2 separate regions of the Homo sapiens genome follow, and region 1 is linked to region 2. The links come from fine-mapping of genetic effects on gene expression. Tissue or cell type: whole blood. Region 2 holds a variant in brackets; the other region holds the start of a gene. All regions are shown on one strand. Distances are between the middles of the regions.

Region 1 (10,166 bases), 29 kb after region 2:
TCTTGCCTTTTACCGTGCTTTGTAAATCTTTGTTGAAAGCCAGACATAATATATCTGGAAGAATATATAGAAACTGAGGTAATCAGGCTACTTGATTCATGTCAATCTGACTAGAAGTTAGGCTGTGTTTAATGTTTGCTGTAGTTATCAGTGTCAGAGGCTTCAATCTACTATTCTTGCTTTGAGTTTCCACATTGTCATTGTCTTTGGGTATCCCCAGAGACTCCTTTTAAATAAAATGTAGTCTGATAATAATTGGTCACAGCTGGCACTAGGGAAAGGCAGTCTCCTAATTAAAAAAAAAAACCCTGAAACTGGTGATCAACGGCTTGCCGATAAGATCTCAGGAGTTGGACAAGTGGGTTCAAGCATGTGCACTAAGAGGCAAAATGGCAGAGTTTAACTGGTATATGACCTTCTAAGAACATTTGATGGGTAAGAGAAGAATGCTTCAAGTGAGCATGCATACAACTCCAGTAAACACACTATGCATACAGCCCCGCCCTAGTGCTGGCACGCCACTGAGCATGCAGACAGCCCACCCTGAGGGAAGAATTAGCAAGAAATAATGCAACCCTGGAAGCATGTCAACATGTAAGACCCAAAATCAAAGGTCCAACCACGCACTTGATCTCTCAAGGCGCTTGCTTGGCCCTCTTCCAAGTGTACTTTTACTTCCTTTTGTTCCACCTCTAAAGCTTTTAAATAAATTTTTCCTTTTGCCCTAAAACTTGCCTTGGTCTCTCACTCTTCCTTATGACCCTTGGTCGAATTCTTTCTTCTGACAAGAATTGAGGTTGCTGCAGCCCCCTGCAGATTCACTACCACTAACAACGGGAAGGCTAGAGGGGGCTGGAATCTTCTAATTGCCCTTTCCCTAGAACAGATAAGGCTCTGGTAAAGTACTTTCCCTTGAGAGAAGGCTTTTGTTAGGGAAATGCTGAGGGCAGTTTTCAAAAAGGTTACTTTGCCCCCTCCTTCTGCACAAAGCAGGAGGGAGTTTTAATCCAATCCTTGTCCTAAGAATCTGCTGCAGCTCTGAAAAGTAAAACTCCCAAAAGTGTAAGGGCACCATATGAGTGGTCTCCCAGGAGTTTCTAACTGTCAAGCTAACTCACACTCAGCATCCAGCAAGTCATCAATGACCATTTTAAGTGTTCCTACCATTTGCTGCCTCATGAGGATTTCTGTTCCTAGCATGCTGATATCAGTTGTGATTTTCTGTATTTGCCTACCCAGTTTGGGGGTGGCCATTTGCTTTGTGACCTCCATTATCTGATGGATATTTTAAAGGCTGTTAATGTTCCATTTGTTCAGCTTTTTTCTTGTGAGGACAGTTGTGATTGACTTCTAAGTGGTTTACGTGTCACAGATGAAACCAGAAGTGTTAAAAAATAAGAAAAGAGCACACAAAAACAAAAGCTTTCTAGAATATTCAATATTTTGAGGGTAAAAGGTCCTGGGACTAAAGTGTTTGATTGCCACTATGCAAAGGCACTCTGTTAGCAACAGTAGATACATATATGATTCTACTCTAAATTCTACAAGTTATATATAATAAACTTCTCTTTAAAACAGTCAAGCCAAAAAAATACATTGTGATATTGGTGGAAAGATTTCAAAGATATGCCTTATTCTTTATTTCAAGTGAAAAAATAAAAATAAAGCAAAAAATACCATTTGCCATTCACGACAAGAGTAATTTACATTAAAATTGAGGTCACCTAGGCACCAGCACAACACCCTGGCTTTGTAACCATCTGAAGGGTTCTTCCTGCCTGCTACACAAAGATCATGGCATTGTAGTAAAGAAAGAGTTTAATAGACATAAGGCCAGCCACAATTCTCATCCAAAGCTTATAGGTTAGGGATTTTTCAGAGGCAGTTTGGGGGAAGTGGTGGAGGTCGCTAGGCTTGCTGCTGATTAGTTGGGGCAGAGATGAAATCACAAGGGGTGAAGCTGTCCTCTTGCACATTGAGTCACTTCTGGGTGGGGCTGTAGGAATGGTGGGTGTCAGACATGCAAAAAAACCCTGAAAAGATATCTCAAAAGGCCAGTCTACAATAGTGGTGTTATCTGCAGGAATAATTGGGGAAGTTGCATATCTTATAACCTTCTGAATAATAACTGATAATAGTTCATGTCTGCACCTTAGCAGGACCCAGGCTCCTCTCCTCCTGCCAGCCTGATGCAAAAGCAGTTGAGTTTGGGGGAAGGCCTATGATAATTTAAACTATAGCCTAAATGTCCCAAAAGCCCAAGAATAATCAAGGCAAGACTGGGGATGGATTAGCTCAGATCTCTTTCACTGTCATAATTTTCTCACTAACTTTTGCAAAGTTTTTTCAGCTTTGAAAATAAGATTGAATTTGCCAGTTTCACCTCTTTCTACTCCTGTTATACTGTGATAGAGTTCCCAAACAACCCCTATTGCTATCTCTATCAATTCCATACAACAAACCTATACTCAATCTCTACTAGGCACAAAACAATTCCTATTTTCAACAACTGTACAGATGGTTGGGAAAACAAATGTGAGAATTATTTGGTAAAGCTCCATACCAGAAGAGAATTATAGTATCTAAAAACTCTAAGTGTAGCAGAGAGAAATTACTGACAAATTCTCTCACAGTGTGGAGGGCTGTGCTTGGCACTAAATGATGAACAGGATTTTTCCTATCCAAAAGAAGGGGCATTCTAGGTAGAGGGAAAAGCATGTACAAAAGCTGGGGGGTCTAGGAGGCAGGCAGAAGTCAAGGATAAAGGGCTTTGTATGCCTGTTAAGAAGTAATGGTGGCCAGGTGCGGTGGCTCACGCTTGTAATCCCAGCACTTTTGGGAGCCGAGGCGGGCGGATCACTTGAAGCCAGGAGTTTGAGACCAGCCTGGCCAACATGGCAAAACCCTGTCTCTCCTAAAAATACAAAAATTAGCTGGGCCTGGTGGTGCACGCCTGTAGTCCCAGCTACTCAGAAGGCTGAGGCAGGAGAATCGCTTGAACCCAAGAGGCGGAAGTTGCAGGAGCCGAGATCACACCACTGTACTCCAGCCTGGGTGACAGACTGAAACTCCATCTCAAAAGAAAAAAAAAAGTAATGGTGATGGTGATTCAGTCAGAAAGCATCAAGCATCAGGACAATTGATAAAAGATTAGAGGGCAGTGCAGAAAATGAAACGCAGGTGAGGAGATAATGACTATCAACCAGTAAAGAAACTCCTGGAATTGTTCCGATGAAAGCTAGTATTTCAAAACAGAGAGGCAGAGATGGAGAAAGACAGGGAAGTTTTTCTTTAAAAACCAAAAATAAAACAAGACTGGGTGATAATACTGAACATACGAGATTGAAAGAAAGGGGAGACGACAAAATGCTGTAGGCTTTCTGCCTTATTTAAGGAAGTCAAAATCCAGCTTATAGTATTGATCTTGCTCATGAAGTTTCAGATAGGTAATTCTAAAAAGCCTATTTTCCTTTAGACTGTCCAATTATGATGACATGTATCAAAGTTAACTTATGACTACAATGGGCTGGGCATAAAGAACAGGAAGTCTGGTGTACACAACTTAGAATGCATCTGGAGTACAAAAGGAAGAAAGAGGCAAGATCTACTTCCTATTCCATGGGGCATCTGGAAAACTCCCTCAGGCGACCGCTCCATCCAAACACCTGGGATCTTTCTCAACCTTCTGATTTCTGTCACGAGGGCATCCAGCATAGTCCTGGCAACGCCGTAGGATCAGGGAGCATCAAATGAGATGGCACCTGGGGAAGGCCCGTGTGGCCCAGCGTCCACCACTAACGCCGTTCAATATCTACCTCAACTCCCCTCTAACGCGAGAATGTGTATGAGAGAGGCAGGGAGAGTTCGGAGTAAAATTAACCCGAATGGACAGCGCTTCCGCCGCGTTCGCTGCCACAAATGCTGCAGACCCGACGGAGTGGAGGCAGAAAAGGCCCTGGCGTCCACTCGGGAAAGAACGAGGTCAGGAGTCGGTCCTGCACATCGCGTAGAGCGAAGAGACGACACCTACCTGACCATAGACGCTCCCCATCCGCCCAGCAACCGTGGTCCATGCTGCCTGCGTCCACCGCCAGCGTCGAAAAACCGCCGTGGTGCCCGCGCACAGTGCACCGCGCCTGCGCATGGTCTCCAAAGGCTGAGCGAGGGCCTGCCAGTGCGCATGCTCCGCTCTTTAGCGCTTCCTGAGCAAAGTTTGAACGCCTCTCGAGTCCAGTTGGCTTATGCGCATGCGTTTCTCTGGTGCAGGTTCTCACCAAATCCAGAAGCGGCGGGCATTTGAAATGATGTAAGCCGGGAGTCGCTCTGCCTGCCCGTTTCTGCGCTGCACTGGCCGACACTTAAGCACTGGAAGAGAGGCCTGGCAGGAGGCGGCGCAGTGGACACGCGGTCCGAGGACGGGGGCCTCACCCGCCGCCCCACGCTTGCCTCTTCCTGGGATGCCGCAGGCGGGGCCCTAACTCACAGCCTCCTCACCCGGGCTCGTGTCTGCGCCCGCGACTTCGACTGGGAGGAGCTTCTGGCGCCACCTGCGCCACGGTGCGCCGGGCCGCCGGCGACCGGGTCGCTGCGCTCGGCGACTGCCGCGCTCCTCGGGGAACGTGAGGGTCTGAGTCCGGGATCCAGGAGAGCAGTTGGTGTCGGGTCTCTGCGGGGGAGCGGGGCTGCGAGGTGGAGGCGAGGACCGGGGTGGGCGGAGGCGGGGTAGGTCTGGCCGGGAAGTACCCGAGGCCCCGAGGCATGAGCGGGGGAAGGTGACCAGGACTTGGAATTTCATAAACGTCCCCGTCAGGCGTGACGGGTCGTCAGGGCTGCTATCAAAGTCAGTCCGCCCATCTACCCTCAAACAAGCCACCTCCTCTCCACCAAAACAGGCTGTGTAAAAAGTCCAGCTATAGACGACCGCCGTCGACTTAATTTCGAAAAAGATACACTTTGTCTTCTATTGTGTTCTGCTCCTACTCCTGTGCACACAGTAGGTGTCCAGTAATGTATCCGAGAATCAATTGCAGGGGACTGAGTAGAACGTTGATGATTGAGGAAAAAATAGAGGGGGAAGCCCTGATGTGTGATGCCTCCATTTCCTTATGAATTCTGTGTTGAGCATTTGTTAGAATAAACCTCATGGCCTAACAAGTGGGTTTTGAGCCATGTTCAGAAACTATACTGTGTGATGTTTTCACCTGTTTTCTTCTCAGCCAGAATCTGGTGATTTAGAAGAGAAGATTGAACAACCAAGATGAAAACCCCTGCTTCCTTTACCTGAGGTGTGGCCCTGATGGAGGTGAAGAAATCGCTTCTATTGGCATTTTAAGTTCAGCAAGAAATATGGAAGTGTACTTAGGAGAGGAGTACTGTGGAACCAGTAGGGGCAAGAATGTTTGTACTGTCTTGGATGACAGTTGTGTGACTTGTACACGGGAAAGTGTTCTCCTGAATTGGTGTCTTTATTCTGTTCACCTTTTGCAATATTGATTGACTCTCTGACATTGATGTTTACATTAGAGAAGAGAAGATAAAAACCTACTATGGCATAGAAGGTTAGACCATTAAAGCATCTTCTAGGCAATCTAGTTCAGCTTCCTCATTTTTAGGAATGCAGAAATTTAGAGCTAATAAAGGAGAGGTGAGCCTGGAGAGGGTCATACTAGTTAAAGTGTCCAGGCAAGAGTGCAGTCCTTATTGCTGCTTCTTGACTCTCTCCATAAACTCACAATGGTCTGTTTTCCAGAAATTAATTTGACAGTCAGTCTGAAACTTTGATCACATATTTTTTAAGGAACCTACAAGCCCAAGGTGGTGCCACACCAGCCTATTTAGTCCATATTCAATGTGTTATAGTTTGATCTTTTCCCTAGTCCCTTATAGGAACATTCTACACTAATCGCGCCTTAATATAAATCAAAACGTCAACTATTTTACATATTGTGCATATTGGAAATAATAAATACACGACACAGGGTTATTGACCAGGTCACTTGAGAAGGGATCTCAACTGTTTGTCCCCTACCAGGCAAACTGAATCTCAGGATTTAAGTAATGGCCTGGAAACAATTTTTTTTTACTGCAGCTGTTTAAACTGATAATTTATATAAGTGAAAAAATAATTTTTATTCTATTTTCAGTAAACGCGAAATTATTTTCTACAAAAATTACTTAATATTGGCATCCTCCACTCATGCCTGTAAAATAAAGGTAGGTCATCACTAAATTTTAACTAATTTGACAATTGCAAATGTATGTATAATATACTTATGTACTGTTGGTTTGTTCATACAGTTAGTCCAACTTAGTCCTTGTTTATCTTTATATGAAACTATGGTGCCAAGAAAACCACGTTTTGTCCCCATTATGTTTAAAAAGACAAGAATTAGAGAAGTTGCAGAGAAAAGCACCTAAAAGCTATTTGGACTGGTACCCTGAATATGAAAAATATTGTTGAGGTGAACTTTAGTGATGTCATCAGAGTTAAGAGTACTGAGCTACAAATAGCCCAAGGTATTAATGCAGTTCTGTTAGTTACTGCCTGAGTGACCTTGGGAAAATCTCTACATTTCTTTGGACCTACCTCATGGGTAAATTAGAAGACTAAAGAAAATAAAGCATTGTATTCTTTTTGTCTCCACATTATACAGGGTTGTGAGACTTACTTTAAGGAAAAAGTTGGCCGGGCATGGTGGCTCATGCCTGTAATCCTAGCACTTTGGGAGGCCGAGGCAGGGTGATCCCTTGAGCCCAGGAGTTTGAGACCAGCCTGGGTGGCATAAGGAGACTCTGTCTCAAAAAAGAGAAAAAAATAAAAAGAATAAGGAAAAAGTTAATGATTTTTATAGCAGGCAAGTAACAAACTTACAGATCAGATTGTTCCAAGACATTGTTTTAGGTAGTATATATTAATCGCTTCCAAAGTCATTTAAATAAAGTGATTTATTCAACAAATATTTGAGTGCCTACTGATACCAGATACAGACTGTAGTAGGCATTTAGGAAGCAGCAGTAATAAAATGGAGCAACTACCCTTGTGTTGCTTATATTCAAATGGGATGAGACAGGTAATGAGCACACTCTGAATAAAATTGTGTTTTGTTTGGTGGTGAGAAAGGCTATAAGGATTAAGAAGCAGAAAGGGGATAAGAGAGAGGATGAGAGGCGACTGTTTAAATTTAACAGTGTTTTCTTAATTGTGAAGGATGGTCACATCTTTGGTGCCATGGGTCTGAATTGACCTGTGTCTTTGGGTTACATATGGTTCTGTGTGTCTCTCTGAAGATGAGTATTTTTTGTAACTATTCTATGGAAGTATATGTGAGTGCAAAGGGTCATTTCATTTAGGAAAATCCCAAGCCTACTAAAGCTTATTCTGAGGCAGCAGAATATGAAAGTTACAAAAATAGTTACTGATGAATATTTTCAAATACTTACTCATTGGAAATTTTAGCACATAATCCCAACCACCATGTGAAATCACTGATATGATCCTCCCTCATGTTAATTCTGATTTGTGTTTTGGCATTTGTCCAGGATCATACAGGCTATACAGAGCAGACTCATAACTGAACTCTGGTTTATCTCATTCTAAATCCTGTTTCCTTTCCATTTTGATACTGTTTTTGGTGCCACACATGAAATGTCTTTTGGTTCATAAACATGAATGAAGAGAGGCAGCATAAAGCATTGGAGAGGGCACTGTTATAACAGCCAGGAGAGCTAGGTTCTAAGCCTGACTTTTACTAATTGGGTAATCCTTTGACAAGTTAGAAAATTACCTCTAACTTCATCTTTTTAAATGTGTAAACCAGTGGGTTACGTGAGACCATCTTGACCCTGCCTTATAATTCTAAATGGCTCATTTATATTTAGTAATTCAGTAAACACTTTGGATGGGCTTCTGAACACCCTTATTTTGTATTAAAGAATATTATAGTAAGCAGCTGTGTGTTAAAGTCTCAGATTGGCATAGTCTATTCTGAGTTGCTTAAATAAATGAAACTTTAATTTTACCTTCTTTCATATATTTAGTATATTTTTTTAGTTTGAAAATGACATTGTCTTATATAAATTGTTCTTCTGAGTTTCATAATAAATTGAAACCTCTGACCATTACTGTATTAGGGAAAACTTGAAAATATATTTAAAGTTTATATTTGTTTTCCTGAATACTTTACTCTTGTTGATAATACAAAGGAGTGACCTTAAATAGTGAATATTGTTTAATATTATTATTTATTTTCCTGAACTTTGTATTGTAATAGTTGCGCTCCTTTGGTGAAAGACAGTGTGTGTTCATCAGTAAAGTTGTGATACACATGAGAGCAGTTTCAGCAAATTATTCAACAGGCTCTCCTGCTGTAAAATCAAGAATAGAACTAGACAGGATCCAAACCATAATGGAGTCCATGGGGTCAAAGTTATCTCCTGGAGCTCAGCAATTGATTAATATGGTTAGGTTTCAGCAGTGGGTAAGTAGAAATGGATGACTTTCCAGATACCATTAAAAATTATAAGTAATGGCTTTTTATAAATACATGTAGTGATGTAAATTTTTTCTTTGAAATTTTGTAATTGATTTAACTGTTATCTTTATTTACTTGTGTAAAAAATAACATTTCATAGACTTGCCCTCCTACAAAATATTTTGACTACAAATCTTCACACTTTTTCATGAATTCATTCACACATTCATTCAGCAAGTATTTATTAAGCACCTTCTTAGTGAACAAGGCACTAGTTTGGGTACATTTCATGATGCAAAGATATCAGTTTATAATTTGTCTTTAAGGATTTACATTCTAGGACATATAAATGGGGAGGGATGAAGAAGATTAGGAAAGGCTCACTAAAGGAAGTGGTATTTTTATCTAGGCCTTTAAAGGACAGGATTAGGCAAGTAAATTTGGAAGAAGGCCAATTCAGACAAAAAATAGGCTGAATAAAATCTTCAATGCTAAAAGAATTGGATGTAGCTGAGAAATGAGTAGTAGTTCATTTCTCTGAAGCAGAAGGGGAATAGGGGAAGTTTAAAGTAGATTTCAGCTAGGTCATAGTGAGAGCTTTGAATGCTACTTCACTTATTTTTTGAGATGGAATCTCGCTCTGTTGCTCAGGCTGGAGTGCAGTGGCACGACCACGGCTCACTGAAACCTCTGCCTCCCAAGTTCAAGCGATTCTCCCACCTCAGCCTCCCTAGTAGTTGGGATTACAGGTGCCTGCCACCACACCTGGCTAATTTTTTTTGTATTTTTAGTAAAGACGGGGTTTCACCATGTTGGCCAGGCTGGTCTCAAACTCCAGACTTCAAGTGATCCACCCGCATTGGCCTCCCAAAGTGCTAAGATTACAGCATGAGCCACCACACCCTGTCTGAGTGCTACTTTAAATTTGTAAGTATTTCCACTGTCATGTGTAAGGTAAATCAAAAGAAAGTGAGACTACAAGGAGAAGACCAGCTACACGTTATTCCCCTCATCCAGATGAGCGAGAATGAGGGTCTAAGATTGAACATAGTAACATGATGCTGTATGGTGAAATGCTAAAACAATGGAGCTGTTGGGACTTTACAACTAACTTAATATTGGTGTTGTGGGAGAAAAATAGAGTCAAATGTGAAATTGAGGCTTTAAGGATGGCAATACAAATAATCTAAATTCAACCCAAGGAAGGAGGATGCTTGGGGGGAAGAAAAGTTTAGTTTTTGGAATATTGAGTTTTAGCTGTGAATAAAACATTCCCTGGGAGGATGTTGCAAACATCTGAAAACAGAGGATTAGGAGAAATGGAATGAACCTTAAGTGGCTGGAAGGGAAGTTTAGAGGTGTATCCACAGTAGCTGATGGAGTGTGGTGAAGAGAGGGACTGAAGCAAGGAAGAAAGATCCTTGGAGAATAGCTGCATTTGTACAGATACAGGGAGAGGAAAAAGGAACCAGAAATGTAGAAGGTAGCAGAGGGATAGAGTAGCAAGAGAAAGGATTTGATGTCAGGTAAAATTACCTCAAGCTCTTGTCCTGTCTCCTCTTAGTTCTGCATCCTTTGGGCAAGTTGATTCATTTTTTTTTTTTAACACAAATTCTTCATGTGCAAAATCTAAATCTAAGTGGTAACACTGTAACAATCACAGGATTGATGTAAAAATTTAAAATAAATAACGCA
Region 2 (10,166 bases):
GGAGAACAAAGGCCTGTGGGGCAAGGCAGGGGGTGCAGCACCTGGGCAAAATCTGGGTCCAGCTGGGACATTCAGATGCCCTGCCAGGTGGCTGACCCTGTGGGGGAGGGGAAGAGGGTAGAGGATGAAGAGAAAAAGAGTGCAGATCCAGATTCCCCCACAGCGATTTCTAACCAGTTATGTCTGGAGAGACTGAAGCAGGTGAATTAGTCTCTCGGGCACGGTGTTTTGCAGTTGAGAGAAAGAAATCCTAGTGTCCACATTGAGATTGGGAGGAGCAAGTGGTGGTGGGTGGGGGCTGCCCTCTTTTCATTCATTCAGTCAGTAAACATTACTTATTGATCTAGGGCCTAAGCAATATAGAATTGAATGTGAGAGACACAGTCCTGCCCTCATGAAACTTGTATTCTAAGTGGAGAGTTAAACAACAAAAATAAATGAAGAATTCAACTGGTGAGAGGAGCTAAGGATACAATAAACAGGATGACTGCATAGATGGTGGTTGCCTTGGGGTGGGGAGGAAATATGACAGTGAGAAGGAGGGCATCTTGAGAGATGAAATCTGAACAAAGGCAGAAAGACAAGAGGGAGGCATTCATGGGTGATCTGAGCTTGGGGGCTGCATCTTAGGCAAAAGAGAGGGCAAGTGCACAGGCCCCGAGGCAGAGACCAGGTGGGCACACCTACAATAGTAGGGAATAAAGAACAGCCTGGCTGGTCATGAGTGGGAGGAGTGAGCTGGGAGGGGAGGATGGAGAGGAGCAGGTGAAGGTCAGATGGGGAAGGACCCATAGGGCAAATGAGTCTGGTTTTCACTCTAAGTTCAGGTGGAACATATTGAGTGGACAATGCCAGGACTGGCTACTTTCTGAAGAACCTTTGTGCAGCTCTGGGGAGGTCTGACGCTCGTGTAGGCTAAGTCTCCTAGGGTGAAACCCTCTGGCTACCGTCAGCCCCTCTGTGTTGTTCTGACTGTGCTGCAGCCCAGGAGGCCTCCCTAGGGAGAGCACAGTCCTACGTTGTGACCCAGGGGATCCATTCCTCGTTGGACCCTTGCAGGGGAAAGGCAGCACCTGGGATGCTCAGGAGGAGCTTGGACATACCCCAAGGCCCCTGCCTTGCTCTGCTCCATTCCTATCTGCCCGGGCTGGCTGTGGATGAGGCAGGACTGGGTGTCCTGGGGTGAGTTAGCAGGCCACAGGTGTTTGAGATGGGGGACCCTTCTGGTTACTAAGCGCTTGCAGCTGTGTCCATGGATACCCACTCCCACCCTGGGCTTTCCCTCTGAACCCCTCTTTGTCACCCATGGCTGGGATCTCCAACATCCCTAATCCATCTCCACTGAGTGCGAGAGTTTCATGGCCACACTCTGTTAGGTGGCCCTGGCAAAGGACCCAGGCTTCCAGATCCAGTCAGGAGAGAAGCCCCCTTCAGGCCTCTGGCAACTTCCTGGGGACCACGGGGTGCTGTGGGGTCACCCTGCATCATCTCATTGCTTCTTCTCTGTCACCTGTGCAAGTCCGCACTTCACATCAAGGACACAGAGGCTCAGATGAGTCAAGGGACTTCCCCTGGTGAAGGCCGAATTGGGATGGGAACCGGCTCCATAGGGCTCTAAAGCCCATGTGCGGTGCTCTGTCCTCCTGCTAATGGGGGTGTCCTGAAGACCTTTGTCCCACCTCCCTCACGGCCCCCGCAATACCTGCACCAGGTATAGTCACCCACATGGGGAGGCCCTGGCACAGGCGTCCTGGATCCAGGCACTGGGCCACCCACTGGGTGGGGTAAGAGGGGATTTGTATGTGCTCCATCTGTCAGAGCTGGCTGGTGACAAGAGAAAATCAAAGGCAGGGGACAGAGACAGTGCCCGGAAACTTAAGGGGGACAGGTGACCTCCAGCTGGAGGCTGCCCTGACTTGGCCTCTTCCCAAGCATGCTGGGGCTGGAGGCTCAGCCTCCAGGAGGTGCTCGGCGTCTACAGGCAGCTCCTCCACCCACATCTGGCCTGTTTCTGTGCCTAGCTGTCACAGCTGTTTCCTTCATTTGCGACTTCTGTTTTCCTTTTTACCCCCTTTTAGTAGATTACCACCTGTTACTAGCTAATAATTCTTTACATTCAGTATACATGTGATGGTCACAAGCAAGGGTTTAGTTCATGAGAGGAGTGGACATGGCGGTTACAGATAGGGAATCATGCTTAGAAAGGGGTTCCAGGAGGCTCAGGGGCAGGAGCTGGAACAGAAGGCAGCTGGGAGTAAAGTGGGGAGGAGTGCTTCCTGCCACCTGCTGTTGTGGTCAGGGAGTCTGGGCTTTGGCCTTTGGCTGGTGGTTCGTGTTACAGTTGAAGATGTTGATGGCTGGATCAACACACATCACTGTTACCGTAATCCACGCAGGAGCCACATGCTCTGGAGATTTGGGGATTGCAGTAGGAAGAAACTGGTTTTCAAAAGGTCCTTTTGAGGTCACTGAGCTCAGGCCTATCTTACACAGGTCAGACAACTTTAACACAGGGAGGTCCTGCCTGGCTCCTCTCACTGTCTTGGATAAATGGACAGGACAACAGGACAGGTATCAGGACATGACACCATTTTCTGCGGTGGATGTCAACCATCCAAGCCCTCACGAGAGCTAAACGAGCGACTCCAGCTGGACAAGATCAGCTGGGCTGAAATTGGAAGTGTCCTAAGAACAGTGTGCATTTTCCTTCTCGGGTGGGAGATGTGCTGGACACTTTTATTCCAATTCTCTTTCTTCTATTGCAATGCTACAAGCTAATCCCCCCCCACATTCCAAAGTGAGTAATAAATATATTTAAACAAAGGATGTTTATAATCAACAATCAAAAAATATTGGCAGCAAAGAGGATTATTTTTAATAGTGTACATTTATTCAAAAGTATATAAAACAACACTGTAAATTATATAATCTCACATAAAAACACTAGAACTTGATTTGAATAACAAAACAATCTACTAAGAAGTATTGCTCATGAAGATTTTTGTGCCCACCTTTCCTAACTCAGAGGCCCTCATTTATGTCGCAACAGCAAGGTGGCAGGGAATCAAAACTGGCACACATTCTATATCCTTCACAGCACTGCAGGGCAGGACAAGACTCCGTGGCAATGGTTTTGGCCTGGCTGTTCTTGGCCCACCACACCTTGTCTGGGTTGTGATTTTTTACAGCCACAGCTTCAGGTTCCTTTGCAGCTCTTGAGAAAAGACACACACAAAGCACAGGCTTAGAATTTTTCTTCTCAGCCCTTTTGTTAGAACTGTTGGGGGGTATCTGGGGAGTTTAGTGCTGAAGCCAGTCAAACATGAACACCAGCCCTACATTAAAGCTCTCTCCCCCATCCCAAGTTCCTCTCGAATCCTTTCCTCTTCTATGATTGCTATAAATGTAAACTGAGGTTACAAAAGCAAGAGTGAGTGATTTTGCAAGCAAGGTCACCCAACTGGTCACTGCAGGCCCCCGAGATGCAGGAATGATGGGAAGGTGCTGCATTTGGCTGTGTCCCAGGCTCCGGGATGTGCCATTGTGAACTCCTTAGAATGGGGACACAATTGCATCTGACAACCAATCTCTCTGGTACTTAAAGGGTCTTCTCCCCAAAATGCAATCTTATCTGACCTACCCTCCCTTGTCCACTGTTCCCCAGGTTTTTCACACGGTTCAGCTGTCCCTGAGATCTAGAGCCCCAGTCATTTTCCCCAAGGCCTCCAGAAACAAATGGAGGAATATCCTGAGAGCTCCCAATTCAGGCAAGAAGAGATCAATCCAGCCCGTCCTCCACATGAGCACAAGGCAGAGCTCGTTCATGCAGCCTCCCCCACAGAATCTGCAGCCTACAGTGCCCAGGACAGAGGGAGTCTTGGCCAAGGTGCTGAATTAAACACCTGATGGTAAACTTAGTGAGGTCCAGTGACAGCCAAGCAGCGCTGACACTCACAGGCCAAAGCTGAGAACATTCTACCAACCCCAGCCAGGAAGAAAAAAAATAAGATTCTACACTCAGCTGTCTTTGCTTTTACAAAGCTGCCTGTTCTTCTTGACTTCACCCAGGGTATGGCCACAGCAGCAAGGAATGACCTTGCTCCAACAGGAAGCCCAGGTATCCCACTGAGGAAGTGCTATCCCCTTTTCCCCATGTGACTCACTTTAGTACGTTGTTTATTTTGAACTTGTGACTCACTTTAGCGCGTTGTGTATTTTGAAGTAAAGACAGAGCACGACAACTATCAGCAGGAGCAAGGCCGCCAGGATACCACCAGCGATGACA[G/A]GCATAATCACTGTATGGAGGTCAAAAGACTTCGATGTACCTAGGCAGATAAGTGCAAGCAAGCACTGAGCCCACGTGGTCTCCCTCCCCACACAACCACTAAGCAATGCCAATGTCAGGGGAGGAAGAAGAAACCCCAAACACAGATCCTTATGTGTGTAAAACACAAATGTCTTCCCAGGGCGGCCTAGGATCCCAAGCTGGCCCAGAGATGGAAAAAAAGAAATAAAAAAAGTCAGTTTGTCAATGAAAAGGAATGGAAATGCAAAGTCCAGAGAGAAGGCTATCAGAAGGACAAACAGTGGGAAGAATCTTTCCCTTTCACAGGTGTGATATGCGGCTGGAAATAACAAGCAGGCCTGCAGTGGAGCTGATGGCGTCACTCCCCAGCACCTGGGCCTCCTGAGCTATACTCATTTTCAGAGTCAGAAATGACCCCCCACTGGATATCAGGCTCAAAGCTCTTCTGTGGAAATGACTGTTTCCAAATGTTACTGTCCCAACAATACTGAGAATATGCAAATCCATTTTGTAAATGATGCATGTTTTAGGAAAAGAACTTTACAATTCTTCCTCTGACAACTGGCATTTTTCCTCCTAAATCTTAAATTCTCCCAAGAAATCCAATTTGAGATAATAAATTAGTTTAACTTTCTGAAACTGGGAAAAAGTGAGTCAGGGGAGAAGAATAAACAATCTGATTGCCAAAGCATACTTACCACCTTCTAACTCCTCATGGCTGGATGAAAGCCAACAGTAAAAAAAAATTACAATCAAAGTAAACTTTAGGGAACAGGACATCTCATCACGAATTTCTCAAACCTTTAATTTGAGAAAGAAAATTCTAATGATTAACATCCAAAGTTGAAGAGCTTGCTTTTAGAAGCAGTCTTCCAGCAGAGCTAGCAGAATGGATATCCACAATCTAGTTCCAACTTCTGTGCCAATCAGGACACACGCTGTGTGACATCAACGCTCTGGACACCAGCTCTCTTTCATGGAGTTCTGAATTCCATTCCACTTCCAGATATATTTTAGCACCAATGGAAGTAGATATGCCTAAATACTCTCTTAAGCCATGGAATACTCAATCTCCCCTTTTCAGGCTTTGTTTCCCTCAGAGAAAAGTTTTAGTTAAGAGTCTGATTCCCAGAGATGCTATGTTATATTATTTTAAATGTCCAGTTTTCAAAAAAGCCTATAAGAAAGTATGGCCCATAAAGGAGTGGGGGAGCAATAAATAAAAACTGTTTCTGGAAGAAGCCCAGACATTGGCCCTACTAGAAAATACTTTTAAAGTCTTTTAAATATGTTCAAAGGAATCCATGTCCAAAAAACTAAAGGAAAATATGAGAATAATGTCTCATCATAAAAAATACCAATAAAGATAAAAATTATCAAAATAACCAAATAGAAATTATGTCATTGGAAACTACAATAACTGAAATGAAAAATTCACTAGAAGGGCTTTCATAGCAGATTGGGATTGACAGAAGAATCAGTGAACTTGAAGATAGTTGAGATTATCCAAACTGCAATACAGAAAGAAAAAAAAATGGGTAAAAGTGAACACAGGACTTCTGGTTTCTGCACAAACATGTGAAGGGCTTGGGAGTCATCATTCCCATCCTCACAACAAGTAAAAAGCTGAATAAAGTGGCTGAATAAAAGCTGAATCAACAACTCTTAAGTCAACCAGAAAATTGAAGTCACAGGGCAAACAGCCACCCCCAAAACTAAAGAGAGAGGTGAATACAGAGAATCCCAGCTTAGGAGCAGAAGCCATTGCCAGAGCCAGCAACTGGTAAGAACACTTACATGGTAACTGATGTCTTCCTGGATGATGAATAGGGACTAGCGGAATATTTAAAAACTCCTGAGGGCCCAATTTTGTTTTGTTTTGTTTTGTTGGGTGGGGGCACACATTCATGAGTCATATCTCCAGGAACTCACCAGGTTCTTATAATGAAGACAACAGGAAAATTCCTTTCTGTTTTAGTCTCCACTGACACTGCAGTGGAGGTGGCCTTATTACCACTGCGAGATAATAAAAGTCATGAAATTTCACCAGGCCTCCTCTGATGCCACCCCAGAAGTTAAGTGGAAAGTTGCCCCATTATCTATTGAGTCAGAGAAGAAATCCAGACTCCCCAAGGGGTCTCCACTGATACCACAGGGGTCAGAGGTGAGTCTCTGCTCTTTATTCAGCCTTCTCTGACACCACCCTGGTGGAGGGGTGCTTTGGGACACTTCTTTACAGCTTGGTAACAGTAGACATCTAGGCTCTCTACTCAGTCTTCGCTGGTGGAGTTGGGATAGGGCCATAGCTTTTTCTATGGTGTTTGCCTAGAATGCAGAAGCTATTGTCTAAAAGTTTTCTGTCTTGTTGAGTTGCCCATTTCCTGGTCTTTTGGCCAGAAAAACCAGTTTCTTGGTGGGGCTCTTTTGTCTGAACCCATTGGTGTTTCCAAGTTGCTCACTTCTTCAGCTCCAAGTTTAGGAATCCGAGACAAAAAGCAAAACTTAGGGAACTCACTACCATGCTATTACTTTGATCCCAAGGTCCCTAGCTAGCCTTCCTTCTTCTCTCCACCTATTCAAGTCTTATGTTTGTTTTATATATAATGTCCATGGATTTTAGTTGTACTTAGGAAGAATAAGAAAAAGTATCTCTTCCCATAAGTGGAAGTCCCCTATATGGGAAATTTTTAAATCAGTCCTCTGCTTAAAAGCCACAGCCTCTGCACCAACCCTACACTTGCTCAATCCTGAAAATGAGTGTTTCCTTACATTTTGTACCCTGGGCCCTTCGCATGTGTTATCCAGCCCATATCTCAACATAACATCTTTCCAGCCTCATCTCCCTCTCCATTATCCCACACCCCATGTATTTTCATGCCTGTGACCTGGTTAGATGGCCCTCCCTGTCCCTCGCCTCCTCTATCTGCTGAAACACCAATCCTGCAAGACTTCAATAAAATGCCATGTCCTTATAAAACCTTCACTGATTTCCACCTCTCTCCCTCCCGTGTTAATTGCTCCTCTCCCTATGTATCCATGCCCTTTGTTTGTGCCTATATGGAAATTTGAATTGTTGACTAGGTGTAGTGGTTCATGCCTGTAATCCCAGCACTTTGGAAGGGTAGGGCAAGAGGATTGGATTGAGCTCAGGAGTTTGAGATCAGCCTTGGCAATATGGTGAGACCCCATCTCTACAAAAAATTTTAAAAATGAAAGTGAAAATAAATTAGCCAGGTGTGGTAGCAGATGTCTGTAGTCCCTACTTGGGTTCAGAGGGATATAACCCTAAATAAGCTTAGTCATCATTAAGGAGCTAGGCCCTGTGGACCCTCCCCATGGGGGTGACTACTTCATCTCTCGGTTTCCCTCTATTTCTGTGGTTACCTGATTGCTGTTTGATAGTCTGTGGGCTTGTGCATTTAAAGTTTGCTTTTTCAAGGTGTCTGTGAGCTCTGTGGGGGCAGGAGCTCTGCAACCCTAGGTATCAGAGAACCTAGAACCTATTAGGTGCTGGCACATGTTATGATCAATGACTGAAATCTGAATTTTGTCAGTCTGGTACTCACTTTTTCTGACTGAGCCTCTAAATTTAGACAGTGCAGTGACTCAGACATAGCAGTTAAACCCTGACCAATATTATTTCATTTATTAAAAAGAATGCATACTTTCTACATTGCTTGTAAGTCACCAACATTTAACTACTTCCAATGTGTTTTAGTAATATCTTTCTGAGTTGCAATGAAGGCAACCAGGAGGCAACAACTAAAACCTCTGTTTGAAAGATGAGGAAACTAAAGCTCAGAGAGTGGAAGTGACTCCCTTGGGTCACACAGCAAGTCACTGGCAGCAAAGAAACTAGGACCTAGTTCTATAATCCTTCCCTCCATCTCCTGCTTCCCAAGTCCAATGCTCTTCCACCCCCAGCCTTCCTGAACCTTCTGAAATGATGTGTTGTTCCCCATTCCCAGTCCCCCAACTCTATTATTCAAAGGCCATGATTTTGGCTGTCAGCTGAAAGATCTGCAAATAAATCCCGTTGCATTTCATTTAAGGAAGGGGCTGATTTTTGTGTTGATGTTTTCATTCGAAGCAATATCTCACTGATGATTCACATGTGGTGACTGCTTAAGAGTATTGAGAGGGATGGGGCCATGTGTTCCAGATGGCAAAAGGTAGGCAGCAACTGTGCTCAGAATCAGTGAGTTCAACTTTGCAAAATGCGATTCCCAATACAGGGGCTGGCCTTTTCTCTATGGAAATTCTCTGTAATACACATCCACAAGGACTTTCACCCAAGTCAGTTATTTGCGAACTGCCCATCCTGTGACTAACACCTGTGACTAACCACTAACAAATGGTGCAAACACCCCGATGCCTGCTAAATTGCATCTCTGGTGACAGAAGCATCCTGGATCCAAAACTACATAAGCCTGTGAGCTCCCTACTTGACCCAGTTCCCATCTCTGTGCCTCCTCCACAGCTCCTTCTGCTCCGCTCCCGGGAAACTTATCTTTACCTTCAGACTCTTGGTGCAGATGGGGACCTTGCTATGGCCCTGGCAAATGCCATGAGAAGAGTTGGGTTTTGCCCCAGAGAGAGGATCTCCTTAACTGAATCTTTTATTCTCAGAGAAATAAAGATTGTGGTGAACAATATGCAATCGGATTTTATGAACTGCCAAGGTTTGAAGACAGTTTCTGTGTCTTTGTAAAATCCAAATGGCACATTTTACTATACGTCCCAGAACCAGATTACACCTCTCTTCCCATCTCCGAAATTCCCATCCAGTCTTTCCCTCACCAAACTTTATGACTGTAAAATCAGTTTTAAAAGAACCAAAGAGAAAAAACTGCAAACTTAGTGATGAATTACCATGTTCTACCTTATCAGTGCCTGTCTAGGTGATCCATGCAGATCCCCCGGCGGTGCAGGCACGATGAGGAAGATCACAATCTGCCACGCACTGGGCTCTGGGATTTGCCCTCTAACTCACAGGCTTAACTTCCACAAAATGTGACAAGACTGAGTCTGTCAAATCAACCTCTCATTTCTTGGGAGGCATTCTTCTCATACTCACATGATTCAAGAGAAGTAACAGTTCATCTTATTTTACCTGCATAAATAATGGCTCCTCTGCTCCAGGAAGGGCAAGAAACATTTCAAAAAGAGCTCCAATCATGTGTCAGACATCCCCTTGTCAGGCATCCTCCAGGGTCTTCCAACTGCAGCTTCCCATCTCACCACTTCTAAGGCAACTGGAGAGGGGAAAAGAGAACAGCTCAAGTACTCTCTAGCTCAGGAAAGGGGAGATCATTCAGCTTGTCAGTTTCTTCAGTCTACAGTGCCTCAGACAGAGGGAGAGCTCAGCTAACATGCTGAGTTAAACACCCGATAGTAAACTCAATTATTTAAAGTGACAACAAGGCAGCGCTGACGCACAGAGCCACCAGGCTGAGAACATTTTATTTACAAGCTCACAGCCCCAAAACAGAAGGTAAAAAAGCCAAGAGTGTACATAAACATGCCTTTGCCTTTCAACCTCTCCTGCTGTTCTTGACCTGAACCATATGTGGCTGCCACAGCAAAGAATGCCCCTGCTGAAGCAGAGAGTGTCCAGGTATCCCATTTGAAGGGATGTCCCTCATTGTTAAGTGACTCACATCTTTGCCATGGCACATTACAAGGAGACACAATCAGCACAGGGGCAGCACCCAGGAAGAGACCAAAACCAACTACGATCTCTGTCCCAAGACCAGCAGTCTCACCCAACTTGTGGTGGCTTACTTTGTGAAAAGCCAAATATCATCTATGAGGAGCTAAGCAGACAGTGCCAATTATGTTCCCCGTGTAGCAAACAAGC

What was found. PIP is the estimated chance that this variant, and not a neighbour inherited with it, causes the effect.
Region 1: it holds the start of FAM24B, and the variant in region 2 is fine-mapped to the expression of FAM24B in whole blood (TOPMed, PIP 0.94).

The regions. Positions count from the first base shown.
Region 1 is chr10:122,875,455-122,885,620 of GRCh38, forward strand. FAM24B (family with sequence similarity 24 member B) reads right to left here and starts at 4,127. Exons shown (of 4, transcript NM_152644.3): 1 at 4,031-4,127. It overlaps FAM24B-CUZD1 (FAM24B-CUZD1 readthrough), which reads right to left and starts at 4,187. Exons shown (of 11, transcript NR_037915.1): 1 at 4,031-4,187. It also overlaps the pseudogene C10orf88B. RefSeq lists enhancers at 336-856, 857-1,376 and a silencer at 9,339-9,469.
Region 2 is chr10:122,846,226-122,856,391 of GRCh38, forward strand. It overlaps FAM24B (family with sequence similarity 24 member B), which reads right to left. Exons shown (of 4, transcript NM_152644.3): 2 at 9,420-9,561; 3 at 4,199-4,325; 4 at 2,853-3,214. The coding sequence starts at 4,290. The coding sequence ends at 3,022. It overlaps FAM24B-CUZD1 (FAM24B-CUZD1 readthrough), which reads right to left. Exons shown (of 11, transcript NR_037915.1): 2 at 9,420-9,561. Among named protein-coding and RNA genes, the nearest start is that of CUZD1, 5.5 kb to the left of the region's middle. RefSeq lists enhancers at 1-421, 488-1,369, 8,468-8,762 and a silencer at 8,468-8,762. The variant G/A (reference allele first, on the strand shown) is at 4,286.